7 separate regions of the Homo sapiens genome follow, and regions 1, 2, 3, 4, 5 and 7 are each reported to be linked to region 6. The links are microRNA targets in miRTarBase. Many come from high-throughput screens and were not tested one by one. Region 6 holds a microRNA gene; each other region holds the end of a gene's coding sequence.
What was found. The annotated mature microRNA hsa-miR-676-5p reads UCUUCAACCUCAGGACUUGCA and lies in region 6 at 3,168-3,188, shown strand. An mRNA with a match to its seed (bases 2 to 7 or 8) in the 3' UTR can be bound and repressed. Matches are read on the target gene's strand: a 7mer-m8 pairs with bases 2 to 8, a 7mer-A1 pairs with bases 2 to 7 and ends in A, and an 8mer does both.

Region 1 (4,613 bases), not on the chromosome of region 6:
TAGTGAATGTGGGAAATTTTTTAGAGATAGCTACAAACTCATTATTCATCAGAGAGTTCATACTGGAGAAAAGCCTTATGAATGCAGCAACTGTGGGAAGTTTCTTAGATACCGCTCTACATTCATTAAACATCATAAAGTTTGCACTGGGGAGAAGCCTCATGAGTGCAGTAAATGTAGGGAATTGTTTAGGACTAAATCGAGCCTTATTATACATCAGCAGTCTCACACTGGAGAAAGTCCTTTTAAGTTAAGGGAATGTGGGAAAGACTTCAACAAATGTAATACTGGTCAGCGCCAAAAAACTCACACTGGAGAAAGGTCTTATGAGTGTGGTGAATCCAGCAAAGTGTTTAAATACAACTCCAGCCTCATTAAACATCAGATAATTCATACTGGAAAAAGGCCTTAGTGGAGTGAATGCAGGAAAGTCACCAAAACTGTCACCTCATTCAGCACCAAAAGGTTCACATCGGACCAAGAACCTATTAATATATGTAAATCTAATGTTGAAAGAGTTCAGATGGAAATCTGCGAGGATTTCCTGCTGGGAACTACATTAAAAACATTTATGTCCAGGCGTGGTGGCTCACGCCTGTAATCCCAGCACTTTGGGAGGCAGAGGTGGGTGGATCACCTGAGGTCAGGAGTTTGAGACCAGCCGGGCCAACATGGTGAAGCCCCATCTCTACTAAAAATACAAAAATTAGCTGGGCATGGTGGCAGGTGCCTGTAATCCCAGCTATTCAGGGGACTGAGGCAGGGAGCATCACTTGAACCTGGGAGGCGGAGGTTGCAGTGAACTGAGATTGTTCCATTGCACTCCAGCCTGGGTGACAGGGCGAGACTCTGTCTCAAAAAGAAAAAAATTATAATTGTGGCAAATTACAGGTAACTTAAAATCTACCATCTTAACCCATATTTAACTGTACTGTTCAGTAGTGTTAAGTCATTCGCATTGTTGTCAATTAATATCCAGAAGTTTTTTCAACTTAATGAAACTAAAACATTATACCCTTTAAACCAGGGGTCCACAACCCCCAGGCTGCAAACTGGTACCAGTCTGTGGCCTGTTAGGAACCGGGCCAGCATCACTACCTGAGCTTCACCTCCTGTCAGATGAGCAGCATTAGATTCTCATAGCAGCCTGAGCCCTATTGTGAACTGTGCCTGTGAGGGATCTAGGTTGTGTGCTCCTTATGAGAATCTAACTAATACCTGATGATCTGAGGTGGGACAGTTTTATTCTGAAACTGTCTGCCCCCTCCTCTGTCCCTGATGCGTGGAAAAATTGGCTTCCATGAAACCAGTCCCTGGTGCCAAAGAGGTTGGGGACCGCTGCTTTAAACTACTCCTCTTCCTCATTCCCTACGCCAACCAGCCCCTGACAATACTACTGTATGAATTTTACTATAAATATCTCATATGAGGAAACTTAAGTTTTAGTCTTTTGTGACTTATTTTGAGGCTTATTTCCCTAAATGTCTTCAAGGTTTATCCATGTTGTAGCATAGCTTATGATTTTCATCTTTTTTAAAGGCCGAATAAAATCCCATTGTAGTCATGTGTCGCCTAACAAGAGGACTGTGTTCTGAGTAATCATCTTAAGGTGATTTTGTCATTGTGTGAACAAAGAGTGTACTTACACAAACCTGAAGGGCACAGCCTATTACGCACCTAGGCTATATGATATGGTCCATTGCGCCTCAGATATAAACCTTAACAGCATGTTACAGTATTGAATATTGTAGGTAATTGAAACACAATGATAAGTAAATGTGTATCTAAACATATCTAAGTTTCCAAAAGGTACTGTAAAAATGTATGAAAAATGGTAAAAACTTTATAGGGCACTAACATGAACGAAGCTTGCGGGACCCCTCTGGTTGAGTCAGGGAGTGAGTTGTGAGTGAATGTGAAGCTCTAGGACATTACTGTACCCTATTGTAGATGTTATAAACATTGTACACTTAGGCTACTCTAAATTAATTTTTTCTTTAGTAATAAATTAACCTTAGTCTACTGTAACGTTTTTACTTCATGAACTTTTAAAATTTTAAAAAGCTTTTTGACTCTTTTGTAATAATAGCTTAAAACACAAACACATTATACAGCCTGTATAGAAGTACTCCTTTATATTCTATAAACTTTTTCTATTTAATTTTTTAACTTCGTAAAAAATAAGTTAAAAATGAAGACACAGACACACACATTAGTCAAGGCCTACAGAGGGTGAGGATCATTAATATCACTGTCTTTTGCCTCCACATCTTGTCCCACTAGAAGGTTTTCAGGCTCAATAACAGGGAGTTGTTATCTCCTATGATAACAATATTCTGGAATATTTTCTGAAGCCTTGCCTCACACTTTTTTTTTTTTTTTTTTTTTGAGACAGAGTCTCGCACTGTTGCCAGGCTGGAGTGCAGTGGCACAATCTCGGCTCACTGCAACCTCTGCCTCCTGGGTTCAAGTGATTCTCCTGCTTCAGCCTCCCGAGTAGCTAGGATTACAGGTGCCTGCCACCACGCTCAGCTAATTTTTTGTATTTTTAGTAGAGATGGCGTTTCACTATGTTGGCCAGGCTGGTCTCGAACTCCTGACCTCATGATTCGCCCGCCTCAGCCTCCCAGAGTGCTGGGATGACAGGCATGAGCCACCGCGCCTGGCTTTATTTTTTTTTTGAGACAGAGTCTTGCACTGTTGCCTGGGCTGGTGTGTAGTGGTGTGATCTTGGCTCACTGCAACCTCCGCCTCCCGGGTACAAGCGATTCTCCTGCCTCAGCCTCCCGAGTAGCTAGGATTACAGGTGCCCACCAGCATGCCCGGCTAATTTTTTGTATTTTTAGTAGAGATGGGGTTTCACTATGTTGGCCAGGCTGGTCTCCAACTCCTGACCTCATGATCCGCCCATCTCGGCCTCCCAAAGTGCTGGGATTACAGGCATGAGCCACAGCGCCCGGCCTGTGCTCTTTATATGACTGGCAGACCAGTAGGTTTGTTTACACCAGTGTCACCACACACACTTGAGTAATGGGATTGAGTTACAGTGGCTGTGGTGGCACTAGGTGATAGGAGTTGTTTAGCTCTGTTATAATACGGGATTACTGTTATACATGTGGTCCATGGTAGACAGAAATGTGTGGCATATGACTGTGGTATATGTATATGCCACTTTTCCTGTATTCTTTCTTCAGTGTACATTTGGGTTGCTTCCACTCTTCTGTTCTTGTTAATGCCACTATGAGCATGAATATACAAATACCTCCTGAGGCCCTGCTTTAAATTCTTCTTGGACATATACCCAGAAGTGGAAATGGTGCTTCCCGTTAATAATAATAATTATAATAATAATAATTATTATTATTATTTTGAGACGGAGTCTTGCTCTGTCACCCAGGCTGGAGTTCAGTGGCACAATCTCGGCTCACTGCAAGCTCCGCCTCCCGGGTTCACGCCATTCTCCTGCCTCAGCCTCCCAAGTAGCTGGGACTACAGGTGCCCGCCACCACGCCCGGCTAATTTTTTGTATTTTTAGTAGAGACGGGGTTTCACCGTGTTAGCCAGGATGGTCTTGATCTTCCTGACTTTGTGATCCATCCGCCTCAGCCTCCCAAAGTGCTGGGATTACAGGCGTGAGCCACCACGCCTGGCCACTTCCCGTTAATTCTATTTTAAATTGTGGGGGGAATTATTTTCCATAGCAGCTGCACCATTTTACATTCTCACCAGTGCAGGGGTTCTAGTTTTTCACATTATTGCCAACACTTTGTTTTTTAATCATGATGGGTGTAAGATGTTATTTTATTATGGTTTTTTAATTTGCATTTCAGTATTGGTGTTGAGCATCTTTTCATTTGCTTGTTGACTAATTGTATAGGTTCTTTGGAGAAATATCTGTTAAATGTCTTTGCCCATTGAAGAAAGTTTTTGTAAATTTTCAGATAACATTGTATGCTTTTGTTGTGTACAACATGATGTGAAGTATATATACTTTGTTGAGTGGTTAACATGTACGTATTATATATGTACATATTCTGTATACGTATTTTAAATATTAACCCCTTGCAGATATGTGTTTTTCAAATACTGTCTACCATTCAGTCTGCTTCCTTTTCATTCTGTTCATGTCTTTTTTTTTTTTTTTTGCACAGGAGTTTTCAAATTTCAATGGAGTCCAATATATGTTATGTTTGTTTCCTATGCTTTTGGTATTATACCCAAGAAATTATTGCTAAATCCAGTGTCATGAACCTTTTTTCATGTTATTTTCTAGGAGTTTTATAGTTTTAAGTTGTACTTTTATGTCTGATTTATTTCAGTTTGTTTTAGTAAATGGAGGAAGGTAAGAGTTCAACTTCATTCTTTTGCATATAGATATCCAGCTTTTTGAAAGTCATTTGTTGAAAAGACTCCTTAATAAGTTTTTGCGCTCTTGTCAAAAATCTGAGCATAAGTATGAGGACTTCCGTCTGGCCTCTTTATTCCACTATATGTATGCATTTGTGCTAGTACCAAGGTGTTTTGATACATAATTCTTTTAAAAGAATAATGTTTCTGTCCACTGTTGAGGCCCTTGCTAGAGGCTTGACAGTGCTACATTTGGAACAGCTGAT
Region 2 (4,613 bases), not on the chromosome of region 6:
AGGAAGATGCAGAAAAAGAGAGGCAGGCTGGCCACCCTTGTGACAGCTTCTTTCCTGCCATCATGATGTCACAGTCCTGATGGGAACACTCAGTTGCTTCCCTTTCTGCACCATGGTGAGTCTAGACCCACCCACCTGATGTCCCCACTGCGTCACTCACCCCTTCAGGCCACCAACCTCCTCATCACTGACCACTGACCCCTACAACCCGCAAGCCTGCACCCCAGTCTCCCTGTGAAATGGTGCTGCGCAAACAAACATTGTTCATCCCCCAAGGCCGGGTTCAAGCCTTTCTGCTACATCCTCCCTCTTTAATATCACCCCGCACCATGGTTCCCAAGGACAGGCACGTGGCTTCACTCAGGAAGTGTGGCAGACATACACACCCAGGCTCCACCACCAGATATTCTGACTTGGCAGATCTGGGAAGGGACCCAGGAATCTGTATTTTAGCAACAGCTTAGGTGGTTCTGAGGCAAGGAGTCCAAGTTGACCATGTCTGCAAGAGCTGCATATAGGTAAGATGGACCCTGCAGCATGTCTCGGTGACTCAGGGGCTTTGCCTGAGTACCAGGTATGGGCTTCCCTGAGCTAACCTGTCCAGGCACAGGCATGGAGACCCCAGTTATAACAGTAATAGCAGTAACCACCATGGATTGAAGTCCTACTGTGTGTCAGGTGCTTTACTCAGGCGTCTCCTTGGATCCTGTCAACATTGGGAGATGGTATAATGGAGGTGTGTCATCTTTTGACTCTCCAGTACCAAACACCTTTTTCTTTTGGGGGCACAGGCCCCAATGTGTGAGTTTCACCAGATGCAGAGTTCTGCTTCCCCTTCTATTGAGGATGGAAGCAGCTATTCCTCCCACCCTTCTCCCGGCAGCTGTGCTGCAGGCACGTGACTTGACCTAAGCCTGGCCACATGCATGATTCTGCCCAGGACCCCAGATCTGCGGATGAGGCTCAAATGCAGGGCCAGTTGCAGATTACTTACTCAGAGGCAATTTAAGGATTCAGAGTCTAGGAATAGCATGGTGGCCTCCAGTATCCAGGGCAGTGGCATTGATGGCAACATGTCCAGACTGTCTCATGTGGCCTCTGCTGTCCATTCTCTCTTGGCTTCTGCCCATTTTCTAAACCCAATCCCCCAGCCTCTCATCAACTCTGAGTTACTGATATCCCCCTAGAATTCCCTTGCTGTTTTAGATAGCCAGAGTTGGATTCTGTTGTTAGCATCCAAAATCATCACTGGCATGGTTAGGCACTATCATGCCCATTAAGGCAAGGAGGAATATTGAAGCCCAGAAGGTTAACTGAGTCACCCAGGATCAGACACCCTGCAAGGATGCAGAGCTAGATTCAAACCCATACATGGTTTTCCTCCAAGACCTGTGTCGTTAGCCACACAACACTATTGTATCAGTCAAGATAACAGCAAGACACCGCTGGCTCATTGAAACTGGGTAATTGAGGAGCATTTAATAAACATGTGCATAGAATTTAGGGAATCCAGTAAGGGGTGCTTCAGTATGCTGAGGCTGGCAATAGTGGTGGGTCATTCCCACTGCTGGGCCTACAGAGGAGAGGATGGAACAGGTGGCTGGACTTGGAGATGGGAGCTGTTTGCTGAGAGGCTTGAAGGAGCCTTCAGAGGGGAATGCAGCCACTCCTGCCACCACCTGCCAGGGAGGGAGCCCTGAGGACAGAAACCCTGATCTGACTGTCTCCCCACCCTCGGCTCTCCTCTCATGCTTCCCATTGGCTCAACCAGCCAGAAGCTGGCAGCCAGGGAGCCTGCTGGTTTAGCCACATTGGTCAGGTTCCCAGGCAGGATGGGGAGGATGGAGCATGGCGTGGCCTGTAAGTGCAAATGGGAGAGTATCCAGCACGGCCATTTGTCTTCCGATTTAGTGCATATAATATTTCAGTCACGTTTAATATGTTGGACTTAAATAACACTTGATCTATAATAAGTTAAGCACACAAGCATGCACTGGACCATGCAGTGGGTTATGTCTGGATGAATCTGTATGAATGTGTCATGGGCTTTGGTAAGGAGTGTAATGACTTTTTGGAAACAAGCTTGAGATCCACTAAGAGGGAGCTGTATACTAGTATACAGTAGGTCTGCAGGGGCCCTGGACTCATAAAGCATTTGCTTTATGCTCCAGGAGAATCTGATGCGGTGGCCTAAAGACCTCTGAAAAACATTGCCCTCATGTGTTCTGCCTCTCCTAGAGTGTATTTAATGATAATACCCCCTTGCCCTGGTCACTTTGTCAACTTCATAAACAGGAACAATGCTGGGATTGCTAAAGTGTGGGGTTCCAGACCAGCAAGCTCAGCATTATTATAAACACTGCATCCTGTACAGTCACTGCCTCTGAGCTGCTTGGTTCTTTTAGGTAGGAAAATAAATGCACCAAGATTAACAGCTTCTGGATCTAGTGCGTCTGCAAAGATTCTCACCAGAGCATCAGGATGAAATAAATGCCCACCACACACCTTCTAATGGGCTCAAAATTGCGGTTCAGAAATCATCTCTCTAGGGTCATTACCATTACCTGGGCAGGTTCTGACAGAGCAGCATTTAGGGGAATGGGGAAGTCCTTATGCGATGGAGCAGTCTGGAAGCTGGACCTCCCCGTGCAGGGAACTTTTTCCACAGAAGTGGTGCTCATTGTAAAAATACATTTACCTAACATGAGACACACGGTATGTGTGGAAAAGTATGATTGCTCTTGGGAACTGAGGATAATATCTGCCCTGGGCATCACTAAATTGGGCTGGAAGGACCCACCATCCTTTCCCCACCCATGAGGCCCATTTCCCTTTAAAGCTCAAAGTAGGAAATAACAAAATCCTGATTGAAATCTGTGGGAGATTGCAAGACAATCTCCCACAGAGATTGTCTCTGTGGTGGCCTGAACACCTACCTGCTTCACCGGGGAGGGCACTGGAGAGAGCATGGAAACTGAGGCAGGTGTTCCAGGAGCAGACTGAGAGAAGAGGAGGAGGGCAGAGTGGGGAACTAGGCAAGCACATGGGGACAGCCTCCAGAAGCCTCCCAGGGGGAGAGCTTTTACTCCACCATCCCTGACCCTTGTGTGATACAGGAAAAGAGGCATTTAGACACAGGCGGAACTCCTGGTTATTCTATTCTATATGGTTTTGGGGTCCTTCAGGTAAGGAGCGCTTCAGTTTTCACTCCTGCCAGTGGGCAGTGGCTTATTCATGTGGCCTCGTTCTAGTCACATACATTTCTGCCTTCACGGGGCTATTTTCAGGATCCAGCGATAAATGCACACAGGATGTCTGACATGGTCTGTTGTTGCTCTCCTATGGATCCCATCTCGGCCTGCCAGTATTTCCCCAGAAGAAGATACTCAGTTTAACTCTTTTCTCTGAGAAGGATGCACTTTCTCACCACGATGTCTTATTTCTCCAGGTTCCACAATCTTCAACACCCTTTTCTGGGAGTGTTGGAAAGAACCACACATAAGCATGAAACCCAAGTGTCTGATGCTAGAAAGAGGAAGTCCCAGCATGGGGCGAGCAGGATGCTTCTGTAGTGGGAGCTCTGTCCAGGTCAGGCCAAAATTGTATGGTCCAGGGCAAAACTGAGCAGGAGAAGTATCAGGTGTGCCTTCTGCATGTCACAGCCCCCACAAGAGAATTACGGTGAAAAGCATTGAGCTGTCTGTATTTCATGCCAACCCCAAGTGGCTGGTGGAATGAAGGACCAAGCATGTTTGGGGCTGTAACTTCTTTTCTGAGGCACAAATGCCCACCCAAGATTATTAGAGGAACGAGGGCAGTGGGCAGGAAGGTGAGACGCTGACTTTAGAAATAGCCGGTGATTACAGATTTAATTCATGTTATTAACTCCCTGCCTTTTACCTCCTCCCTCCTCCCTTGGCACAACTGCCAGATGGATGTGGCTGGAAGTCAGAGGACATTCTCGTGGGTTCGTGGGCCTAGGGTACAAATGACCTCAGCGTGACAGCAAACAGGACAGAGAAGACCAGGCTCTTACTCAGGAATCCACCAGCCAGGAGAATGACAATGTTGAACACCGGAACCCTGCGGGAGACAAGAGGCTGAACGCTACTGCTGGCAAAGTCTCTCCCACACGCACATGTTCCCTCTAGAAAATGCCTTCATGTCCCACTCTCCTCTGCTTAGATCCTTGCTCCACCTTTCCCGCACTGCCTGACCCTGTGCTTTTCAGTCTGTCTCATTGCCAAAAACTACTGATTAGAAACAATTCAGTGGAGAGTATAGGTCCCTGTCCAGGAGAGGCACTGGAGGGAGACAGTCGGGCTGATCAGCCCATCCTCCTCCCTGTGATGTGGTAGGGAGAGAGGACTCTGGCCAGGAAACCCGCTCTCTATTCTCAGTACCGTACCCTGCCTACTGGGATGGTCATCTCACCTCTTTAGCTCGGTTTCCTCACCTATAAACCGAGAAGAATCCACCCGTAGTGAAAATCTCATCATGAATTTTATAGATTTTGGCGAAATGATTCTAAGGTTTCTGGGTAAACATCAATAGGTATCATAATAAAAAGATGCAAAGGAGTGAGGGCACTTGGCCAGTTCCATCAGCAGACA
Region 3 (4,544 bases), not on the chromosome of region 6:
TATGCCCCTCGCTTGAATTCTTTCTTCTGAGGAGGCAAGAATTGAGGTTGCTGCAGACCCGTTATGGATTCACCACGTTAACACCCTGGCTTTGGTCCTTCCTTATCTTCTCTTTGCCTTTATTTAAACAATATGGAGTACTAAATCCTCTGATGGGTACCTGAGGGGCCTGCTCTTCCAGTTTGCAAATAGGGCACCCTGAGGCAGTATGTAGCAGGACTTCTGCTAAGAGCCTTTGAAAGAAAGATCAGGGGAACTTCCAAAGCTACCATAAATTCAACAGCTGTGACTTAGGAATATAGTGGATCATTGAAAAAAAAAAAAAGATTCTGATTTAAGAGAGCTGATCTTCAAGTTATATCCTCAGCCTGAAAACAGAGGCAGTTTTAAAACAGGGATTCTTTAGTTTTCTCTTCGGAGACCAAACAGATGAGAGCTACCACCACCCACCTCCCACAGCTCCAACAGTACCACTAAGGACTAAAACTATAAAAGTCATTCCTTAACTGATAGAATTAAAAGTAAAAACAAATGAACAAAATCTGAAATAATTAAGTTCTGGGAATACAACTGTTTAACCATTTCTTTGTATTTTTATTGATTTTTCTTTTTTAATTTCTGCCCAGTTACAACAACGAAATGGGAAACCACAATTAAAATTCACAAACCATGGCATGAAAAACAACACGCACCCCATCAGGAATTACACCAAACCCCTTTTCCTTTTTATTCATTCAAAAGAGAGTCCAATACACAAGTGTCAAATATGAGCACTGTCATTTTTTTTTTCTTAGAAGGGGGAAAAACATTTATTTTGGCAGTGCTTTGACAATTCCAGGAAGTGGTTTTGATACCACAAGTTGCAGGAATAGAAACCCTAACAAACTTGGAGGGCATTTGTTTGAGAGGCAAGGGACGCCTTGCTTAGAAAACATTCCTCTTGTGCTTAGTGAATCACCTATCGCCTCGGTGGGCTGCTGTGTCTTTCCAGGTGCTGAAAGAGAAAACGGAATTTCTTGCATAGACAGCTGAAGAGTCCTGTAGAGCAGAGTGATTTTTGTATCTCCAACCCTCCTCCCAACTTGAAACAAATTCTCAAGCTTCTCTGGAGCATCTTTTGGTCACATGACCCTCGATCATGGTAACCCTTTTGCTAAGACACATGTGACACCAAGGTTTCCTCTGACACTGCTTCTCTAGGGTTCAGATGACAGCATAAAACATCACTGGTCAAAAATATTAGATATTAAGAATGTGGGCGTTTATGTTCGTAACAGCAAATACTTTGTAGGGTGTGTCACCCAAAGGAGCATTTTTGTCATTTAATATGGTCCCCGGGGAGTTAGCCCAAAATCATACAAATAAGCCTTTTTCTAAAGACAGGTCAAAGTTGGTTAATTTAACAGTTGAGGAACCGTCTCATGCCAATTAAAAAATTCTTACTTCCCAACTATTCAATGGTCCAAAAAGCAATTAAATGTGACCATTCAGTTTTACACACATGCACACACACACACACGGAGACGCGCACACACACACGAGAACTGTGACAAAAGGATTCACCAGATTAATCTTGTGACTGTGTTCTAAAAGAAAATGAAATCTCAAACTTGAGGTGTCCTATTCAAGTATTAAAAAAATGCAAACATCGTCTGATCCCATTCGATTTTTATCATCATAAGAAATCATTCTCTGAACTGCAGGTTCTGGAGTCAGTGAAATTAATGCCTGGGGCACAAAATATTCTACAAAAATCGGTTTGTGATTTCTAGCAGGGCAGTCGCTTGCTCCTTATTTCTTTTAAAAAACATGTTGAGACTTTGTATACTGTAGCCTTCCAAGAGTCAATACTTTACAAAAGAAGTAAAAGAGTAGCGAGTACCAGCAACTCACTCTTCTTGTCTGAGGCTGGCGAGAAGCAGTCAGTTTTATACATTTTCGATCAACCCACGGAGGAGGCAAATGTAAACAGAGTTTTTTACACTCTCCGAAAAACATGTTACTACTGTAGCATATGCTGTTTGGCCCAATTAAAAGTAGAATGGAGAGCAATTTGTTTGGTTGGCTTTTTAAGTTTTACCTTGTGAAGATTTTAAAACAAGGGTATTACTAGTTCTTGGCAGGAGACCGTCCAATCAGAGGCTCTGTATTTATAAATAACCCGTGTGGGATTATGCTCTCCAGTGAATGTAACTGGAGCCTAAATTCACAACCTTAAGATCTGACAGCCAGATGTGGAAGGTCTACAAAGAGCTCTGCTAATAAGTAATATGTTTGCAAAGTGCTCTGCTAAGTAAGGTACTTATTAAGCAGAGCACTTTGTAAGATTCAGAACTGACTCCTGATTATCTTAAGCCATTAAAAGACTCAAGTTTTGCATGGACTTTTTGTCCTCTTTGGCCCCTGAGTGTGCCCCATCTCTGCCCAGCACTAATAACACGTTGGAAGAGCAAAGGATTTCCCACCAGCGTGCCAGATGATTTATATAGGCAGGGACCTTCATTGAAAAGAAGGGAAGGGACACTGTCTTAAATGCACATTTAAGGTTCTTTCTGATTATTGGCAATCTCTATGAACCAACACTTAATCCATGGGCTAACAGAGAGATTTTTTTTTTAATGTGAAGAGGATTAAAGAATAAAGAAAAAACAAAAAAGTCTTATACTAAAATAAGAAATCAGCCCCATCTTGGCACAGTTCTCATGCAGAATATTGCACCCAGTGTGAACTAACGCTAGAAGCTTCAAACTGTATAAATTTAAATGTATTTGCATATTATAAAAATAAAGATAAACATATACATATTTTACACTAGTTATGGAACAGCAATGAACGTCAGTCGATCCCTCTTTCACATTTAACAGAACTGAAATCTGAGTGCTCTAAATACTGCCACCTGTACTGTAACTATGGCTTATATGTGCACGGAAAACAAAATCCCTGAGAAGCCATTCGACTTTTTTTTTTTTTTTTTCTTTTCTTCAAGTAGCGCGCTCCTTGGAGGATCACAGTTCTGAGGTTCAGGTTGTAAAACATTTGCTCCATGTTCTCGTCCATGCTTCCCCCCACCACCCCCTCCCCACCTCTTCCCCAGTCGTCCAAAAAGCACCCTGCAAGCACGCGTTGTCACTCAAGTTCACAGAACACGCTGGGGTGAGTGCAGAGGGTCTGCCAGGTGCAAAAGATGGTCCAGGTGTTCAGATGCTCTCTTTTCTCCATGGAAATTCCACAGCCACAAACGTCACTGGTTTCTGTGCTTTTCACCAACATTCTTCCTGTATGGGTGGACAACAAGAAAGCACAGAGATGACAAAAACGTACTGGACAATGCTACCCTCAATAAGAAAAGGAAGTGATGATAGAAATCTATTTTCTGCACATATTTTCATTTCTACTTCCAGGACTCATTATAAACATGTAAATGTCAGGCAACTTATGTCCCCACAAAGGAAAGAGTCATTTTAGCAGTCTATTTGCCAAACATTTCTGTTGGTGTGTTAAGCTCAGTTCAGCTATAAGAGGGAACTGTACTAACTGGCTGTCATCACTTATTCCACTGTAATTTTATAGCTTAACTAGACCTCTAACTAACAACCCAAAACTCTAAACACGGAACTGTTTCCTTTCAATAAACACACACGGTCACACGCAGACACACACCAAATAATCCTCTAGAAGAAGGAATATATACTAAAAAGTGAGATGTCTGTCTGCCTAAAATGCATGATTTTACTTAAAATGTTATAAGTTAAGTTGTCCACGCAAATCTGGAGTCTGATCAATATAGAATGAATAAACTACTGCAGCCTCAGCAAATAAAGCGGGATTCAGTTCCGATAAAATGGTTAGAGGAAAAAATATCAAGTGTTTTTCTCATTTTTGCTTCCCTACAATGACATGTGATGGGATGTTTTTGAAAGTGGTTTTTTTTTTTTAGCAACTTTTAATAAAATATACAAAGACATTGAAAGGAAAGGAAAAAGGAGTTACGATTCGTTTCCTCCAATCCCCCATCTCTCATTAGGAGAGACGCTGATTTCATGGACACTGATAATTCAGCATCTGCCTAAACACTTCTCCAGTCCATACAAGATTCAGTCATGGGCTCATTCAAGCATGATAATAACGACATCACCAAAACAAAGCAAAGCAAAGCAAAACAAAACAAAACAAAACAAAAAAACCAAAAACCTCTCATTTACTAACTACATGCCAGGAATTAGGTTGTTCACTCTAGTGCATTATTTATCTTCAACTCCTAATAATCCCACCATGTAAGCTCCATCTTACTCAGTATTATTATTATTTTTTTTTTTTTGAGACAGAGTCTCGCTCTGTTGCCCAGGCTGGAGTGCAGTGGCGCAATCTCGGCTCACTGCAAGCTCCGCCTCCTGGGTTCATGCCATTCTCCTGCCTCAGCCTCCCGAGTAGCTAGGACTACATGTGCCCGCCACCACACGCGGCTAATTTTTTGCATTTTTAGTAGAGATGGGGTTTCACCATGTTAGCCAGGATGATCTTGATCTCCTGACCTCATGATCCGC
Region 4 (4,606 bases), not on the chromosome of region 6:
GTTAGGCCAATTGTGGATTAAAGTTTTATTGAATTTTTTCAGTTGTGGAATGATAGCTATTTTTATAATCTGAATTGATTAAAAACTTACCTTATTTAGAAGAATTTGGTCTGTTTTCCGTTTATTTAAGGGCTTTGGAATTTGTTACTGAAAGATGAAAAAAGGTTTTCATTAGAATTTGTTAGTGAAACAAAATCAAGAATCACCCCTCTCTTCCCCAGAGTTCCAAGTAACATGGTCTTGCCCATGTTAGACACATGCTATGTCTTTCTCATCTAATCTCTTTTAATGTAATTTGCAGGAAAGTGCAGATCACCTTGCACATGAAGTGAGCTTGGCAGTATTTCAGCTGGCTGGAGGAATTGGAGAAAGGCCCCAACCAGGTTTCTGAAGATAATTTTCATATTCCTGAGAAACTGGACTTTTTACAAGTCTTTACAAAACTGTCAATAATAATGGCAGTACTAAGAGATTTATAATCATAATGTTTACAATGCAGCCTACTGGATTGTCTCTAGATCTGTTTTTCTTAAACACTAACAGAATAATTCTTTATAAATAGGTAAGCCTTACACTTGTTAAAGAAATTTACCTCTAATTTCAGTCTCACTAATGTAAAATACTGGGACTTAAGTATACAATTCAGTCACTAACTGTACAGTTTTATGTGGGGAACAATTCATGCAGGCTACTGGAAAATTAAATCTTATTACCAACTCCTTGTGATATCTTTGCCATCACCATCACATGAGCAAGATGATGTTTTGCAGCATTCCCCATTGCTGATACAAATGGAGAGGGCAGAGAAGACTTTATACAACCAGTTTTTCCATTGCAGAGTCTTAAGAAAGATTATTAGATGACTTACCTATATGACTAATGCCATCAGGAACTCAGAGGTATGAATAGGGGGTTGTCCATCCCTCTTCCATACTGAGGTGGAGATGCTCATGCAATACTTTTAAGGATGCATGGTCCAGCCTTCAGTTATTCTTCACTGCTCTTGGTGAAGGTATGTGGGAGAAAAACTAATTATAATACGTTTCCCAGCCTCTGATGGAGAAGGAACACCATTCTGATACCAGAACATGGTTAATAAGGAAAAGAGAAAAATCCCCAACCAATCTTAATTGAACCAAGTCTGAAACCAATGGAAAAAAAAAATGGGTAGTGTATATTTTGCAGGTTTAAGACAACTCAGGACAATAAAAACAATGGACTTTACATGTGTATATATATAGCTCTCTTAGGCACCATAATCAGTATGAGCCAACAATATTTAAACTTGATTCAGGCCACATTCAGACATTTGCTCTTATATACAAATATTTAAATTAAATACAATCTGAAATGTGTTCTGTTACATACAAAAAAGGAAAAACTATACAACGCAGAGCAGTGTGTGTGTTTTAAATAATTACATTTACATGTAAGCTAAATGGAACCAGCAATGGTGCTCAAGTTTTTATCATCCCTTCCAGAAAATCTTTTTCTACCATCTCTTCTATTTTTTGCCTGGCTTTGCTGGAACATGGTTTGTGGTTCTCCAGTTTCATGTCCTTATTAGGGAAGGCATTTGAGTAGAGGATAGGACTCCCTGAGTGTCCTCCACATCGGCTTGTGACTTTGCTGTTGAAGACTTGACTGAGCACATTGAAGAACGGCAGGAGCTGCTCCATACTGCGCACGGTGCAGATGGTGAGCAGCAAGTGCCCTGGCTCCCAACCCAATGTTCTCCCTGAGTTGTCTTCCTCTGGATTTTTCTGCAGAAAACAAAAAGTGAACTGGTATTAATACAACAGACAATGTGGTATGTTAGAAAAATTAAAAATATATAAACTTTGGCAATTGGTCAAGAAATGAATACAAATGACATTAAGTTTCTAACTCCTGACCTGATCAAAACCCTTGGTGCTTCTGAGACCTTTTACTGCCATTTATTAGTTTTACATGGAGCAGTCTAACATTGTAGTAATAGTTCCCAACTAGAATGCGCAGATAAGCTTAGTTAACAGAAATAGCTTTGAACAGGAATAGAGTCAAACATAAAAGTTTTATGTTGTGCTTTGTATTTACTCAAAAAGCTCCCAGGTTTCTGAACCCTCACTACTGTAACCAAGGACTAGGTCACAAAATTACTACAGAAAAAAGGAACAAAGTGCTTTATACATTTCATAATATATCCCCTTTTATTATAATTAGTTAATTCCCTTTTATCTAAATGGCCTAAATTTGCCATGATGGTAGCAGTGTCCAAAGTGAATAATTACTGTCAGTACTGCATCACAGAGAAAGGAAGGGATCCCTCAGGAGACACTGCTGTCTCCTTCTGGGTTGTGCTAAACAACATAGGGAGGAAAGCTGGACCTGGAGTCAAAGGAATTGAGTTAGTGTGCTGGCTCTGCCATACTTACGGCACCCTTGGGCAGGATATACAAAGGTTCCTCACTTATAAAATGGGACAGTCTAAAACTACCTTTTAGTAGAGAAGTCAAATGAGAAGGTATGTGAAAACTCTGTCAACTAAATATAAAGACTAATAATTTGGGTATTAAGAGGCTAGTTTGAGAAGCCACCTGAATTACACAAACACAGCTACAGACATCATTCTGTCTAGAGAAAGATAAGAGAGAACAGGTTGGTTGAACTTGGGCAGAATCACAGATACAATTCCACACTAAAGAATGAAAATAAGCAATGAACTAGACAGAAGGAAGAAATCATGAAGACTTAGGAAGCAGAATTACAATCTGTCATATTAACAAATGGAGTTTGCCTTCTAAGATCAGATGTTGCTCAGAAACTTTCATTGTTTACCTAATAATTTAATATCACTAGTTTCCTAGTGGGTCAAGCAGATGCAAAATCCAGCTTATTTTCTTCTATGTGCTCTCAAGCTTATTGCTTATTTTAAAGTAAAATCCTGAAAAAGGAAAATATTAGGTTGGTGCAAACGTAATTGCGGTTTTTGCATTGTTGAAATTTGCCGTTTTATATTGGAGTACATTCTTAAATAAATGTGGTTATGTTATACATCATTTTAAGCATATTTCTCACTTTTTTTTTGCTAATGACTTATTGCTGTTTATATTTATTTTAGACTATGGAAATGATGTTAGACAAAAATCAAATTTAGCGATTTTCTGAGTTCAAAATAGGTTATAAAGCAGCAGAGACAACACACAACATCAACAATGCATTTGGCCCAGGAACTGCTAATGAACATACAGTGCCGTGATGGCTCAAGAAGTTTTGCAAAGGAGACTAGAGCCTTGAAGATGAGGAGTGCAGTGGCCAGTCATCGGAAATTGATAATGACCAATTGAGAACATCATCGAAGCTGATCCTCTTACAACTATAAGAGAGCTGCCCAAGAACTCAATGTTGACCATTTTATGGTCGTTCGGCATTTGAAGCAAATTGAAAAGGTGAAAAAGCTCAATAAATGGGTGCCTCATGAGCTGAGTGAAAAATAAAAAAATTCGTTGTTTTGAAGTGTCATTTTCTCTATTCTATGCAACAATAATGAATCATTTCTCTATCGGATTGTGATGTGTGCCAAAAGGTGGATTTTATACGACAACTGGCGATGACCAGCTCAGTGGCTGGACTGAAAGAAGCTCCAAAGCACTTCCCAAAGCCAAACTTGCTCCAAAAAATGGTCATGGTCATTGTTTGGTGGTTTGCTGCCAGTCTGATCCACTACAGCTTTCTGAATCCAGGTGAAACCATTACATCTGATAAGTATGCTCAGCAAATCAATGAGATGCACCAAAAACTGCAATGCCTGCAGCCGGCATTGGCCACCAGAAAGGGCCCAATTCTTTTCACGACAACACTGGGCCGCACGTTGCACAACCAACGCTTCGAAAATTGAACTAATTGGGCTATGAAGTTTTGCCTCATCTGCCATATTCACCTGACCTCTTGCCAACAAACTACCACTTCTTTAGGCATCTCAGCAACGTTTTGCAGGGAAATTGCTTCCACAACTAGCAGGACACAGAAAATGCTTTCCAAGAGTTCGTCAAATTTGGAAGCATGGATTTTTATGCTACAGGAGTAAACAAACTTATTTCTCATTGGCAAAAATGTGTTGATTGTAATGGTTCCTATTTTAATTAATAAAGATTTGTGTGAACCTAGTTATAATGACTTAAAATTCATGGTCCCAAACAGCAATTACTTTTGCACCAAACTAAAAATATAAGTTAAAATGGAAGAGTCTAGGAGCAAACCAAGAAAAGATCACCTACTTCATCATCTCTGGTCAAAAACAAACCAAAAAACTTAACAGCTATCACTTAAGTTTGCTTCCTAGCAATTATTTAGCTTCCAGTCTAGATTACAGGATATATAAAACTTTCTTTCTTTCTTTCTTAACTATGACACTGGCACCAATGAGAGTCCTGTGACTGACTTTCACATTTCCACCATTACTCAATTACTGGTACCATACCACCTCTAATCCCCTAAATCAAACTGCAATTCAACAATAAAGGGCGTACAGAGATGACTTTGTCCTGAAGGAAAATGAATATCCTTGTACCCTCTATATAGCTAACTTCCAAATGTAAGAGAACTATGGGGTAACCTTTTGTTTCTA
Region 5 (4,613 bases), not on the chromosome of region 6:
CCTCCTCAGCCTCCCAAACTGCTGAGATTACAGGCGTAAGCCACTGCGCCCGGCCAATAGCTCATATTTATTGAGCATAACGCTATATGCCAAACAGTCTTCCCAGGTTTTGACAAGTATAATTTCGGCCACATCCGCATAATAGGACTCTTATGTACCTTTTTTCTTTTTAGATGGGGCCTAAAAAAGCCAGGCTGGTGTGCAGTGGCTATTCACAGGCACCATCATAGAGCACTGCAGGCTTACACTCTTGCCTCAAGCGATCCTCCCGCCTCAGTCTCCCGAGTAGCTGGGACTACAGGTGTGCGCCACCATGCCTGGGTTTCATGTAGGCTCTTGATTATACTTTGCAAATAATTCCCATAGATGATAAATATCTTGGCCAATGACACACAGGGAGTTATGTGGCAGTGATGACAGGTAAGGCATGTGCCATGGCTAAAAGCACTATTGCATATGTGACATTAACAAGTTAGTTTATTAGTACTAATTTTTGAGACTTCAACAATGATTGAGTGGTGTCAGGTGTGGCGATTTAAAAATAAAAATATGTCTGCAAATGTTTTGACATTTCTCTCTTTAAAAAGTGAAAGTGGGCTGGGCACAGTGGTTCACGCCTATAATCTCAGCACTTTGGGAACACTGTGGGAAGACTGCTTGAGCTTAGGAGTTTGAGACAAGCCTGGGCAAGTTGGTGAGACCCCCATCTCTACAAAAAATTTAAAAATTAGCTGGGCATGGTGACGCACACCTGTAGTCCCAGCTACTCGGGAAGCTGAAGCAGGAGGATCACTGAAGCCCAGGAGGTTGAGGCTGAAGTTAGCCATATGCACTCCACTGGACGACAGTGAAAGATCCTGCCTTCAAAAAAAAAAGGTGAAACTTAATTCCTCTCTTACTGAATGTAGGCCAGACTTAGTGATTTTCTGGGAACAAACAGAACGTGGCAGAACTAACTTCCAAAGAGAGATTATAAAAAGGATCACATCTGTCACGTCACAAGCACACTCAAGCAGCTTATGGACAAGGCCCCTTGGGAGAAGAAACGACTTGCCAGTATAAACTTATCAGCCACAGAACTAAGCCATTTGAAAGCATATCCTACAGCTATAGTCAAGCCTTTAGATAAGCACAACCTCTTGAGACACTTGGAGCTAGAACTGCCTAGCTTAGCTGCTCCCAAATTTCTGACTCACAGAAACTGTGAGAAAAATACACATTTATTGGCATTTTAAGCCACTAATTCTTCAGGTTCTTTGGAATGTGGCATGAGATAACAGATTTTGGTACCTAGACAAGGGATGCTATTGAAACAAAAAGCTACAAATGTCAGAGGGGCATTGGGACCACAAACTGGGTGGAAATTGGAAGTGCCTGGAAAATATTATTAGCAGAAACCTGGATATTTTTGAGGAGCTCCTAGTGAGGGCTTAAAGAAAACTGAAAAATGTTACTGGAGACTAGGGGGAAGGGATTCTTGTTATGCAACAGCAGAAAGCAACATGGCTGCACGTGGTTACTGTGAAAAGTACAAAATAATACCTACAGAACTGTGTAACTGGCCCAGGCTCGTGCTATAATCCCAGCACTTTGGGAGGTCAAGGTAGGAGGATCAAGAGTTTGAGACCAGCTCAGGCAACATAGGGAGACTTCATCTCTACCAAAAAAAAAAAAAAAAAAAGAATTAGCTAGATGTAGTTGTGCATACACCTGTAGTCCTAGCTACTCCTGAGGCTGAGATGGGCGGATCACTTGAGCCCGGGAGTTCAAGGTTGTAGTGAGCTATGATCACACCACTGCACTCCAACTTGGGTGGCAAAGCAAGATTGTGTCTTTAAGAAACAAAAACAAACAAACAACAGCAACAAAAAAAGTGGGTAATTTAGCTTAGGAAACTCCCAAGCAGAATGTTGAAGGTGTCTTGCTTCTTGTTGCTTAAGTGCTAGAAGTGAGATAAGCTAGAAAAAGACTGTTAAACAGAAGTGAACCAGGACTTGCTTTTGGAAACTCCCAGCCTCTCCAGAAAGCAAATGATGCTAAACTTCAGAAATAGTCTCTGGACAAAGATAAAATCCAGAGTGCTGTTAGGGAAACATAGTATGTAGGTAACCTTAGGGTATGTGTTCATTTTGATCCTCTGAAAAGCAAAAAGCAAGATCAGATCAGAAGGAAGGAGGGGGCTATGAATGAAAAAGAGGTCCAGGAAAGGCAGTGAAAGCCTTCAGGCCATGGTACAAGATGGATGACTCTGAAGGAGAGGGATGAAGCAAGATTGGTAGAAAAACTATGAAAACGCGGGGCAGTATGAAAACAGTTTCAGCCTGGCTGATTCACAGTTCCCCAGCTGAAGGGTCTGGGTTTCGTAAGAATTGACTAGCATGAATACTTATGTTATGCTCAGAAAAGGAGCTGGGGGCAGCCCATAGGAAGCATGGCCTCAACATTAACACAATGATTATTTCAGAGAGGGAGCAGAGTGGGCACTTCACAGGCAGGTTATCTGTTCTCCAAAGAACAGATAGAGTATGACTGTTAAAAACCCTTGGTTAAGACTCCAGCAATATCTAATGTGACAATTATGAGAATCACCATTCAATGAAACTTCTATAAATGGCTCTGTCAGCAGCCTCTGCAGAAGCCCTAGGTAGAGGAGGCCGGATTTGCACGAGAGTGAATGAACAAGTGAGCATGAGCACCAGGGAAAGGTGATCCTGAAGATTCTGTTCATCTAGGTTCAGCTCACATGCAAAGGGAAGGGAATTGGACTTCAGGTTTTTTTATTTGCTGTTTGTGTTTTTGAGACGGAGTCTCATGCTGTTGCCCAGGCTGGAGTGCAGAGGCACGATCTCAGCTCACTGCAGCCTCCGCCTCCCAAGTTCAAGCGATTCTCCTGCCTCAGCCTCCCTAGTAGCTGGGACTACAGGCGTGTGCCATCACGCCTGGCTAGGCCTCGGTCTCCCAAAGTGCTGGGATTACAGGCGTGAGTCACCGTGCCTGGCCAGACTTCAAGTTTGAAGGGTAGAGTTTCAAGAATTTGAGGACATATTTTTAAAACACCACGACTGGCATTCTGAGTACAAATTGCTTATATTTCTACGTCATGCAAAATATGCTCAAGAAGCCACCCAAATTGCTTGAGCCCAGAAGTTGAAAGCTGCAGTGAGCTATGAGCATGCCTCTGCACTCCAGCCTGGGTGATAGAGCAAGACCCTGTCTCAAAAAACAAAGACAAAAACAAAAACAGACAAACAAACAAACAAAAAACGGCTCCAAAGTCACAGCTTTCTCCTGGCACTCTCACTGTCTAAGCCAGCCTGCCAGTGTGAGCAAGCCACCTGGAAAACAGATCCTTCCGCCCCAAGGAGCCTTCAGAAGACTGCAAGCTCATGGAAAGACCAATTCAAAAGCACTCAGTTAAGCCTCTTCCGAATTTCTGACCCTCAGAACCTATGAGTGATGTTTATTGTTGTGGTAAGACATTAAGGCTTGGGGTAATTTGTAATACAGCCATTGAAATCTAGTATGAAAGGCTTTTGGTCATCCTTTTAATTAATAAGTTTTTTTTTTTTTTCTTTTGAGACGGAGTCTCACTCTGTTGCCCAGGCTGGAGTGCAGTGGCGCGATCTCTGCTCACTGCAAGCTCTGCCTCCCGGGTTCACGCTATTCTCCTGCCTCAGCCTCCCGAGTAGCTGGGATTGCAGGCGCCTGCCACCACGCCCAGCTAATTTTTTGTATTTTTAGTAGAGACGGGGTTTCATCGTGTTAGCCAGGATGGTCTCTATCTCCTGACCTCGTGATCCGCCCACCTTGGCCTCTCAAAGTGCTGGGATTACAGGCAAACCACCGCGCCCAGCCTTAATTATTAAGTTTTTTTAAAAAAAAATCCATGCCATGGATGTTGTAGGCATGAAGAAACTGGGATTCCTGTTTTTTTTTTTTTTTTTCTTAATTTACCATTGAATAGTCAGATATTCCATTAAAACAGGACTGACATTGAATGCTTTCTAATGTGGCAAGATCTGCATTTTGAACTCTCTCAATTGCTAAAGCCATACCTATAAGACTAACATTCCATCATTTCTCACCAGTGTGGGCTGTCTGATGATGAATGGCGCGCTCGTACTCTTTACGGTCTTACACTTTTATGCTCCTATGAATTCTCTGATGGGCTTTAAGGGCTGAACCATATCTGAAGGTTTTCCCACACTGCTTACACACATAGGGTTTCTCACCAGTATGAATTCTCTCATGTTGAACAAGGTTTGAAGCACGACTGAAGGCCTTCCCACATTCTTTACATTCATAAGGTTTTCCACCAGTATGAATTTTCTGATGTTGGGTAAGGTAGCCATACATTTTAAAGGCCTTTCCACATTCTTTACATTCATAGGGTTTTTTATCAGCATGAATGCTCTGATGTGCAGTAAGGTGTGAACTACGTCTAAAGGTCTTCCCACATTCCTTACATTCAAAAGGTTTCTCATCAGTATGAATACTTTGATGTAGAGTAAGATTTCTATAGAAAGTAAAGGTTTTTCTACATACCTTACATTCATAGGGTTTCATACCAGTATGAATTTTCTGATGTTGATTAAGATATCCATGCAAGCTAA
Region 6 (4,613 bases):
TACATATGGACACAAAGAGGGGAACAATAGACACCAGGGCCTTCTTGCGAGTGGAGAGTGGGAGGAGGGTGAAGATCAAAAAACTACTTATTGGGTACTACGTTTATTACCTGGGTGATGAAATAATATATACACCAAACCCCTGTGACACACAGTTTATCTATAGGACCAACCTGCACATGTACCCCAGAAACTAAAATAAAAGTTTAAGAAATGACTTTGAGCCCTGTTTCTGTTGGTACTCTTCATGTCATGGGCATTTTAGGGAAAAAATATAAAAATTTTAGTTAACTCTTTGTCTTACACTGTATGCCAAAATCTATACCAGATTAATTGTAGATTTAAAAATAAAAATGAAACCATAAAAGAACTAGAAAATATATAAAGAGTTACCTATAATATCACATTAGGGAAGGCCTAAGTAAGCATGACACTGAAGGCAGTAACCATATAGGAAAAGATTATTAGGTTTAACTACATGTAAGGAAAGCTTTTCACACCCTTTGACCCAACAGTGTCATTTCTAATGACACATCCTAAAAAACCTTTGGACAAGTGTATAAAAATGTACATATGTGGGGCCGGGTGCAGTGGCTCACGCCTGTAATCCCAGCACTTTGGGAGGCCGAGGCAGGCGGATCACGAGGTCAGGAGATAGAGACCATCCTGGCTAACACAGTGAAACCCCATCTCTACTAAAAAAATACAAAAAATTAGCCGGGCGTGGTGGCGGGTGCCTGTAGTCCCAGCTACTCGGGAGGCTGAGACAGGAGAATGGCGTGAACCCGGGAGGCAGAGTTTGCAGTGAGCCAAGATCGCACCACTACACTCCAGCCTGCGCGACAGAGCGAGACTCCGTCTCAAAAAAAAAAAAAAAGTACATCATTGTTTATAAATGTACATAACATATAAATTGTTTATAAATGTACATATAAATTGTTTATAAAATGTACATATAAATTGCTTATAAACATACATTGTTTATAAATGTACATCATTGTTTATAATAGTGAAAAACTGGACCCAATCTAAATATTTATCAAAGATGATTAAACGCTGATGCATCCATATTAAAAATTACAATGTAAAAATGTAGTTATTGACATAAAAAAGGTTATCAAATGACATTTTTCATCTGATCCCATTTTGTAAAAATACCTATTTATATACATAGAAGACTTCTAGATGTGCATGAAATGTTAGTAGTGATTATTTGGGGGTGCTTTAATAAGCTCTTTTTCCTTTTGCTCCTCTTTTGTATGTATATACGTATGTATGCATGCGTTTATGTATGTGTAAGGAGTAGGTATATTTTGTATGAAAATAATAGAAGCTTAAAAAGATTTTAAAATTTCCATTTCTCTCTTTTCACTTGTGGATTTAAGTCAGACCTTCTCCAGGAAGCTATTTGTTCCCCTTAAGTGGCCAGTATAATTCCTGAAGCCACTCCCTCATCTTTTGTATTTCCCTATTCAACTGTAAGTTCTTGAAGGTAGAGTTGTGAGTTGCGTTTCATTATTTACTGCCTTCCATACACATACTCTGTAAGGACTGGTTGGCTGGTGATGGCCTGATTTCTTCAAAGTCTGCTTTTGAAGTCTGATATAACAGTGCTTACCCTTAACCAGCTGAAACGGTCAAAAACTTGGTCCGGGCCAGCACACCTTTGCAAAGAGGGCAGGGTAGCCATAATGGCTGTCTTCCTACTACTCTCCTAGGCTGTGGTGGCTAGCTGGCTGATAGAGCTGAGCCCTTTCTGTGTAAATCTTTCCCCAAACAGCTTTCTTGTTCAAGAAAAAGGCGTTTCTCAGGTTGAGTCGCTGCCTCATATCATTAATGTCTATGTAGTTGTGCTTTCCTCTCAGAACTTCCAAGCACATTTTCAAGAACTCGCAATGCTGTTAAAAAAAAAATTCATAAAGGATGGGTAACAAAGAAAGAAGACAAAGAACTGGGAGGAGAGGAGAGGAGAAGAGAGAAGGAAAAGAGAATTGAGATTCATGACCTTAAGTACAGCAGGTTGCTCCAATCTAAAACATCCCCTGGACATAACAATAGCTACTGTTGCACATGAAATTACTTTGCCAGAAAAGTCTACACAGACATTGGTTTTTCAAGGGACCTGTGAAAGCTCTGATGGCCACTCTGGCAGCCCTCCAGGTTAGAGACTTTACTGATCTCTAATAGGGCCTGCTCTTATAGTTAGAGATCATTCCACGTTTGTTGCAAATATCAAATGAGATGATAAATGGAAATATGTTTTATAAACTATAATATTGAAATGCTTGGTGTTCCTTTTGTAAGCTCTTGAGGGCACTGACAGTGGTTTAATGTATAACTGTGTCTTCATGGCAGTTTGGAACAGATTTTAAATACCTGTATTTAAAGAAAGTCAAATCCGTATACAGAATGAAGAGAATTTATTTCCTAGAAGGGAAAAAAAAAATGACTGTCTGGGAGCGACCTAAACTGTTTGGGGAGTTGCGGTCACCTAACTATGTTAGAAACACCTTGGGTTTTCTAAGTACCTTCAATTGATTAGAATTATTTTCCTTAGAAGTAATTTCCAATAAAATGCTTGTGATTTCACTGCCAATGAAATGGTTGACATGTCTTATTTTATTTTATTTTATTTTATTTTATTTATTTATTTATTTTTGAGATGGAGTCTCGCTCTGTCACCCAGGCTGGAGTGTAGAGCGTGATCTTGGTTCACTGCAAGCTCCACCTCCCAGGTTCACGCCATTCTCCTGGCTCAGCCTTCCAAGTAGCTGGGACTACAGGCGCCCACCACCACGCCCAGCTAATTTTTTGTGTTTTTAGTAGAGACGAGGTTTCACTGTGTTAGCCAGGATGGTCTTGATCTCCTGACCTCGTGATCCACCCGCCTCGGCCTCCCAAAGTGCTGGGATTACAGGTGTGAGCCACCACCCCCGGCCGACATTTCTTTTAAAGTGTCCATTAACTTATAGTAAATTACAATGGAAATGCATGTGGCCCTCAAGAGTGTATTATGGTCAAACTTTTAATAAGTAACAAATTAAATCATGATAAGGAAGTGACTAAAAGTTAAACACTGCTGCTCTGCTCTTTCCATGAAAATGACCCTTTGCTCCTTCCAAGTTCAACACGAGACTTCATATCAGATTCTCACCTGAACGCATGACTCTTCAACCTCAGGACTTGCAGAATTAATGGAATGCTGTCCTAAGGTTGTTGAGTTGTGCATTTCTGGGCATTTCATCTCTATGGGGAAGTACCCATTCCCTCACCCCAAAGACTGAAGTAGAGAGATTTTTCTCCCTAGGGAAGAATCTTCCTTGAAACTTTTGTGGCCTCAGGAGTCAGAAGACAGAATGGGGAGGTTTGATAGTTGGATCCTTGCCAAAAGCCTGACCCTTGGCTGTGAGACTCCCTCAAATTTGCAGTGTCTTGGGGATCCCTCCTAGTGACTATCTTAGAAAATAAACATTTTCTGTTCATTTCCAATGACTTAATTATCTATTTTATTTTTCTTATAGGCCCAGTTAAAAACAAGAAAAAGGGTAAGTTCCTGACTTTATAAAATTGCTGTCTTGTCATATATTTTCTAAAGTTAGAAGAAAAAAATCAAGAGTGCGATTTTTGTATTATATTCTTTCAGCATTGTCTGTCTGTTATTTTATTCAATCATATGTTATCTTCTTGAGTATTGTAGTTTCTGAAGAACAAGAAATCATTCTTCAGTGATGATTCACCTCTTTCATTCTTCCTTGTTCTTCTCCCTGCCCTTCTTTTTATTCTTTTTTTTTTTTTTTTTTTTTTTTTTTTGAGACGGAGTTTCACTCTTGTTGCCCAGGCTGGAATGTAATGATGCAATCTTAGCTCACTGAAACCTCCACCTTTGGGGTTCAAGCGATTCTCTTGCCTCAGCCTCCTGAGTAGCTGGGATTACAGGCACTCGCTTTTATCCTTTTTTTCCTCCTTTATCAAATCAGTGATTGAGTGTGAATGAAATCCTGTGTCACCATGTAGGAACTAGATACGCTACCTATCAAAAGATGTCAGTACCCTATTTCTTGGACTTAAAGCTTCCCTGATTTGATTTCCCAAAGAGTCAGGGAAGGTATTTCTTGCTTTGAGGATTCAATATCATTTTCTCTGTAATGAAAAAGCTATTCTGGAGTAGTACCCTGACCATTTAGTCTTTTCAAAGCAGCTTCCATTGTGCCGTTGTTGGGTCAGTAAGTCCCCAGTGTACTTGCAATGAAACTGGCCCTAGGGCATCTACAAGTGCTCACTTACTAAAAGAGGAGAATCAATCCAAAGACAGAACAGTCTCCAAAGACAGGGCCAGGCAATATGGTCTACTTCTTAGGACTGAAAGAACCAATTATGAAACTAGTTAAAGCACCTGTTTGTTTCTGGGTTCTGACCTGGGAGGAAGACAGAGTAAAACTAATGATTGTTCATTAAAATGCTTTAAGTGAAATGATGCTGTGTGATAAGATTTATGGAGCTTTATAGAATAGATTGTCAACCCCGGACTAGGCCAAAAAGACTGGCTTCAGCTGCAGTCTGCCACTTCTTTGAACACTAGGGTACTCTGGTGCCTTGAGGTATCATAGTCCACA
Region 7 (4,613 bases), not on the chromosome of region 6:
CCTTGGCTGGGTGCGGTAGCTCATGCCTGTAATCCCAGCACTTTGAGAGATGGACGCGGGTGGACTGCTTGAGCCCAGGAGTTCAAGACCAGCGTGGGCAACATGGAGAAACCCGTCTCTAGTGAAAATACAAAAAACTAGCTGGGTGTGGTGGCACATGCCTGTAATCCCAGCTACTTGGGAAGCTGAAGTGGGAGAATCACCTGAGCCCAGGAGGTCGAGGCTGCAGTGAGCTGAGATTGCACCACTGCACTCCATTCTGGGCAACAGAGTGAGACCCTGTCTCAAAAAAAAAAAAAGAAAAAGAAAAAAAAAGTTTGCCTTGCTTTTTGTCTAGCCAGTGCTGCAAGCTGACCATCATTTGGTTGTTTCAGACGAGTTTCACTGGCATTTGCATGGCCTCTGCTGGTTATTGTGTGTCTCATCTCCAGGAGCTTAAACCCTTCTATAGAAGGCAATTCCTCAGTGACCCCTAAACCAGCCAGTAAGTTTGGTTTGCCTTCAATAGTTGACCTCAACTATGCATCAATAGGTACATGCAAACATCCAGCACTGCCATCATCTGTCTATGTAACCCTGGACCAAAAGCTACAAGAGAAAGCTTGAGTCTCTCTTCCCCATGTAAGAAAACCAACTGCCACCCCTCCAAAAATAATTAATGGAATACAAAGTTGATTTGAGTATTTTATTTATAAATGTACATTTACTATAAAAGCTGTTGCATTTTAGACAACTTGTTGTTTTTATTTTTTACTGTTTCTCAGAGGCATTTTAGAATAAATACTTTAAATGAAAGTTAGTATAACCGATATAGAACACTGGCCCACCCAGAGCAGTAACATCTTTTGGACGGACTCACATATGAGGTGGATCATTTCAGTTTGTTAAATCTTACACTGTGTATAGATAACTATAATATGTATTGCATTAATCACACTACATAGAAAGGAAATGTCATGGAAGTTCGCTAGTGAAAAACAAAAAGTTACCCATTATTTTTATTAAAGAGTAGGGACTAGCTTTTGGAGTATGAGAAAAAAAATCAGATATACTTCCTCAGGAACAATAAATCACTCACTTGCCTCACCTGTTTTTTAAACAAACACATTTACATTATAGCTCAATGGAGCAGAGCATTTTTTTTTTCCTGGGATCTCAAAGATTATTTGAAAAGAAATAGATCATACTCATTATGCTGCATTGGAAAAAACAAGATCTAGTCTGCCTAAGCTGCCATGTAACAGACTCCAAATGAAATATAAATCAAATATAAATAGAAACAGTTGGCAATTAGAATTTAGAAAATGTTGGAGATTATTCTGTGCTGGTGACTAGTGTTCATTATGGGAAAGCACATTTTGCAGTTGGAGAATGGGGCTTTATTTTTCTTGACTCGATTCTAGCTTCAATACATGTACAATGAGCCTCACTAAGAAATATGTATAAATGGGTTTGTGAAACCAGAAGGGAATGTGCAATATTCATGTAATCCTTACATAACGGATGGAGTTGCACATGTAAAAAGTATTCTATAAAAATCGGTTATGAATGACCATATTGTACATGTTTGTGCATTACTAGTGGTACTCTGCTAATATCATGCAAAGTGTAAACATCCACATTATCAAAATATTTAATAAAACATGCAGGTGGATAATCAAAATATTGGACTTGATCTGTACATTTTCAAAACAATTTTTCTTTTTAATTTTTTCTTTTTTTCTTTTTTTATTTTTATTTTTTCCTGTAAAACAGCAAACACCTCCATGAGAAGTCTTGGAAACTTGGAAGTGACTTCATCTCTCTTCAATGTACTGCATCCATAATTTATCGCCATGTGCAACAGCTTTGCGTTTTCTAAGGCACAATTTTTAATGAAATGATGTGTAGATTTCAATCTAATAACAGCTCATCCAAATGACAAATATGGTCGAAATCCCTCCAGTGGCTGAGGAAATTTCTGCACCTATATGGAACCCACATGCAAAGAACCCATCTAGCATGTAATAAATAATCGCTAGCCATACTCAATAAGACACGGAAAAATTATTGCTTACATAACAGAAAAACATCTACTTGACCCCCTTTTATGACTACATCAATCTATTAGGAGTGTATCCATAGTCTACATTCACAAAATGTCATCTTGACTTATTTGCCATTGATTTAAGGCAGAATAAATAGTCCCCCTTTCCCCAGTCTTAACAACAAAAAACAAAAAACCAGCCTGGAGATCTACATTGTGATGCTTTTTAATAACTTGACTCCTTTCTTGGCCAGCTGAAACTCGTCGCACAGGGCAGAAAATAAACCAGCTCTCCACAAGAGTTCCTCTCTAAACTTCTCCATGGGCAAGGTCCGGAGTTCTTGATAGCAAAAAAAGTGATGGAGAATGGAGGAGAGTAGGTATTCATTGAAGTGGGCAGGGCATAATCTGTGCTGTAGGTTCTTGCTGATCACAGACCAGGGGCTGACCACATCATATACCACATAGATTCTATTAAGATGGACTTAACGCTTTTCTTTGGACACCTGTGCTTCAGGCCCTTAAGGAGAACTTGCCAGCAAGGGTGAGCAGTGCTCACACCTAATGATGAACTTATCTCGGTGCCTCATCTTCCATATACCTCATGTTAAGTCTCTTATTGAAGACTCCTAATCTAGTGCCTCGAGAGAAGCAGGCAACAGAGGCCTGATGTCTGACATTGACTCTTTGGAAGATTAAACTTCCTCACAGATTTTGATAATGACTTTGGAAATGATGACTGAAATATTTCCCTCTGCTTTCTTCCTACCTTTGGGCAACGTCCCGGAGTGTAAATCTAGCTGATATTGCAAGGTTTTGCTTTATTTGATGAACCAGCCTATATTAATGACATAACTTCCAAGGTACACAGAATCTAATACTAACGGTGCAATAATTTATTGGTATAATTTCTACCTCCAAAGGTAAGTAACACAAATGTTTCAGGATTACAGTATATATTATCAAACTAGTGTCTTTGCATTAAAAACAAATTATAGCTCAGAGATAGAGCTTGCTGTGATGTTTAGTTTCTGAAATGCATTAAATTTATCCTTCAGTCTTAGAAGACCGTGTGTCTCAAATTGGCATGTCTTGCACTTTCTGCAGCTCAATTCTGTAAACATAAAGTGTTTAATTCCTAGACATTCTAAAACAAAACAGGTTTATTGCATCATTTAGCTAATTCCCAAAGAAGAGAATAACACATTTTAAACCATAAGCCTGTTTGACCATGCTAAAACCTTTTTTGAGCTATTCAGGATCATTACAACCCCATATTCTTTTGTGTATACTGTGCAAATGCAAAAAAAAAAAAAAAACCAAAACAATAAACAGGAAAAACATAAACACTGTGCTACGAAAGAACAGATACCACCTTTCAGAAGAGCCTTTCAGAAATTAGGTAAATGCTGAGAAGCCCCTGAGCTTGGGATTTTGTTAAGCAGTTGCCAGGGGACACTCTCAGTAAAGAAATGGTGAGTGATCCGGAAGCTTGAAAGCCGTGTCACAATGTTGTAGGCTGCCCGGCACCTGTGATTAAAACAAACAACAACAAACAAGAGTGGTAGGCAACATTTCTCGCTTCAGACATTTTAAAACCTCCCTAATGAGCAACTGCCTTTACCAAAGTCTCCTCTTCCTGGGGACCAGAAACTTCTCCCATCCTGCTACTTGAAGTGTGGCCCCAGGACAAGTAGTACTGGCATCACCTGGAGTCTGTTTGAAATCCGGGCTCTTAAGCCGCATTCCAGACCCACTTAACGTGGTGCCCAGGTGATTCACATGCACTGTGAAGTTTGATCAAATGCTCTGGATTGCCCCTAAACCAAAGCATCTCCATCAAGTTTTCTACCTTGTCCTCTGGGGCAAATAAGCAAGAAAATAATCTCTTTTCTCTCAGTTTCCTTAGGTTTTGATTTCTCTAAGAATAAGTACATTGTAATATGAGGAATTTGACATATGATCTAGAAATTAGATTGCTAGATTCAGCAAGTATAAATACGCAATACCCAGTACAGTATAATTTCAGATAAACGACACAGAATTTTTCAGTATAAGCATATCCATATGATATTTGGGACATACTTATGTTAAATCCAGAGCATGCAATATTTGGGACATACACAGACTTAAAAAATGTATTGTTTATGTGAAATTCAACTTTAACTTGGTTTAAAAAAATTCCACTAGGTATCTTATATTTTATCTGGTAAACCTATCTAGAAAGGATTGTTTGGGTTCCATATTTTCTGCTGAAACCTTCACAGGATTTCTCCTTTTTAGGCACTACAGTTGTGATGAGGCAATTGCAACATTTGAAAAGACCCCAGGGAGTTTGCATTAAATGCGTTTCACAAGAGTGAATGATGGAACAGAACACCATGTACAAAGACACAGTCATCCAACACCCAAGCACAAATGGCACAAGTTAAACATGTGACGGCTTGATGTATGACAGGTAATTTGTTTTGCACGTCCATTTCCATTTACATATGAACTTAAAAACTGTTTACATTGCTTTTAGGAGTTGCATTTTAATATGCTGGTATGCTATTTTTCCCTTCAAGAGAAAAATTTCATTTAAATG

Region 1: the mRNA of ZNF749 is a reported target of hsa-miR-676-5p. The part of its 3' UTR that is shown has no 7-base or 8-base seed match.
Region 2: miRTarBase lists TREM1 as a target of hsa-miR-676-5p. Seed matches in the 3' UTR shown: 8mer at 3,458-3,465.
Region 3: miRTarBase lists MFHAS1 as a target of hsa-miR-676-5p. Seed matches in the 3' UTR shown: 7mer-A1 at 2,979-2,985.
Region 4: the mRNA of PGM3 is a reported target of hsa-miR-676-5p. Seed matches in the 3' UTR shown: 8mer at 1,632-1,639, 7mer-A1 at 1,654-1,660 and 7mer-A1 at 3,273-3,279.
Region 5: miRTarBase lists ZNF573 as a target of hsa-miR-676-5p. The part of its 3' UTR that is shown has no 7-base or 8-base seed match.
Region 7: the mRNA of LIMCH1 is a reported target of hsa-miR-676-5p. Seed matches in the 3' UTR shown: 7mer-A1 at 1,804-1,810.

Annotation. Positions count from the first base shown.
Region 1 is chr19:57,445,074-57,449,686 of GRCh38, forward strand. ZNF749 (zinc finger protein 749) reads left to right here. Exons shown (of 3, transcript NM_001023561.4): 3 at 1-2,028. The coding sequence ends at 412. Among named protein-coding and RNA genes, the nearest start is that of VN1R1, 9.8 kb to the right of the region's middle.
Region 2 is chr6:41,272,148-41,276,760 of GRCh38, forward strand. It overlaps TREM1 (triggering receptor expressed on myeloid cells 1), which reads right to left. Exons shown (of 4, transcript NM_018643.5): 4 at 1,458-4,083. The coding sequence ends at 3,978. Among named protein-coding and RNA genes, the nearest start is that of TREM1, 12 kb to the right of the region's middle.
Region 3 is chr8:8,782,781-8,787,324 of GRCh38, forward strand. MFHAS1 (multifunctional ROCO family signaling regulator 1) reads right to left here. Exons shown (of 3, transcript NM_004225.3): 3 at 574-3,275. The coding sequence ends at 3,242. Among named protein-coding and RNA genes, the nearest start is that of CLDN23, 83 kb to the left of the region's middle.
Region 4 is chr6:83,165,019-83,169,624 of GRCh38, reverse strand. It overlaps PGM3 (phosphoglucomutase 3), which reads left to right. Exons shown (of 13, transcript NM_015599.3): 13 at 302-4,606. The coding sequence ends at 391. DOP1A (DOP1 leucine zipper like protein A) reads right to left here. Exons shown (of 39, transcript NM_015018.4): 39 at 1,154-1,763. The coding sequence ends at 1,458. Among named protein-coding and RNA genes, the nearest start is that of PGM3, 26 kb to the left of the region's middle.
Region 5 is chr19:37,734,358-37,738,970 of GRCh38, forward strand. It overlaps ZNF573 (zinc finger protein 573), which reads right to left. Exons shown (of 5, transcript NM_001172690.2): 5 at 3,945-4,613. The coding sequence ends at 4,135. Among named protein-coding and RNA genes, the nearest start is that of ZNF607, 17 kb to the left of the region's middle.
Region 6 is chrX:70,019,697-70,024,309 of GRCh38, forward strand. It overlaps MIR676 (microRNA 676), which reads left to right and starts at 3,161; the gene lies at 3,161-3,227. It overlaps EDA (ectodysplasin A), which reads left to right. Exons shown (of 8, transcript NM_001399.5): 3 at 3,522-3,545.
Region 7 is chr4:41,696,103-41,700,715 of GRCh38, reverse strand. LIMCH1 (LIM and calponin homology domains 1) reads right to left here. Exons shown (of 32, transcript NM_001330672.2): 32 at 672-3,556. The coding sequence ends at 3,531. Among named protein-coding and RNA genes, the nearest start is that of LIMCH1-AS1, 5.6 kb to the right of the region's middle.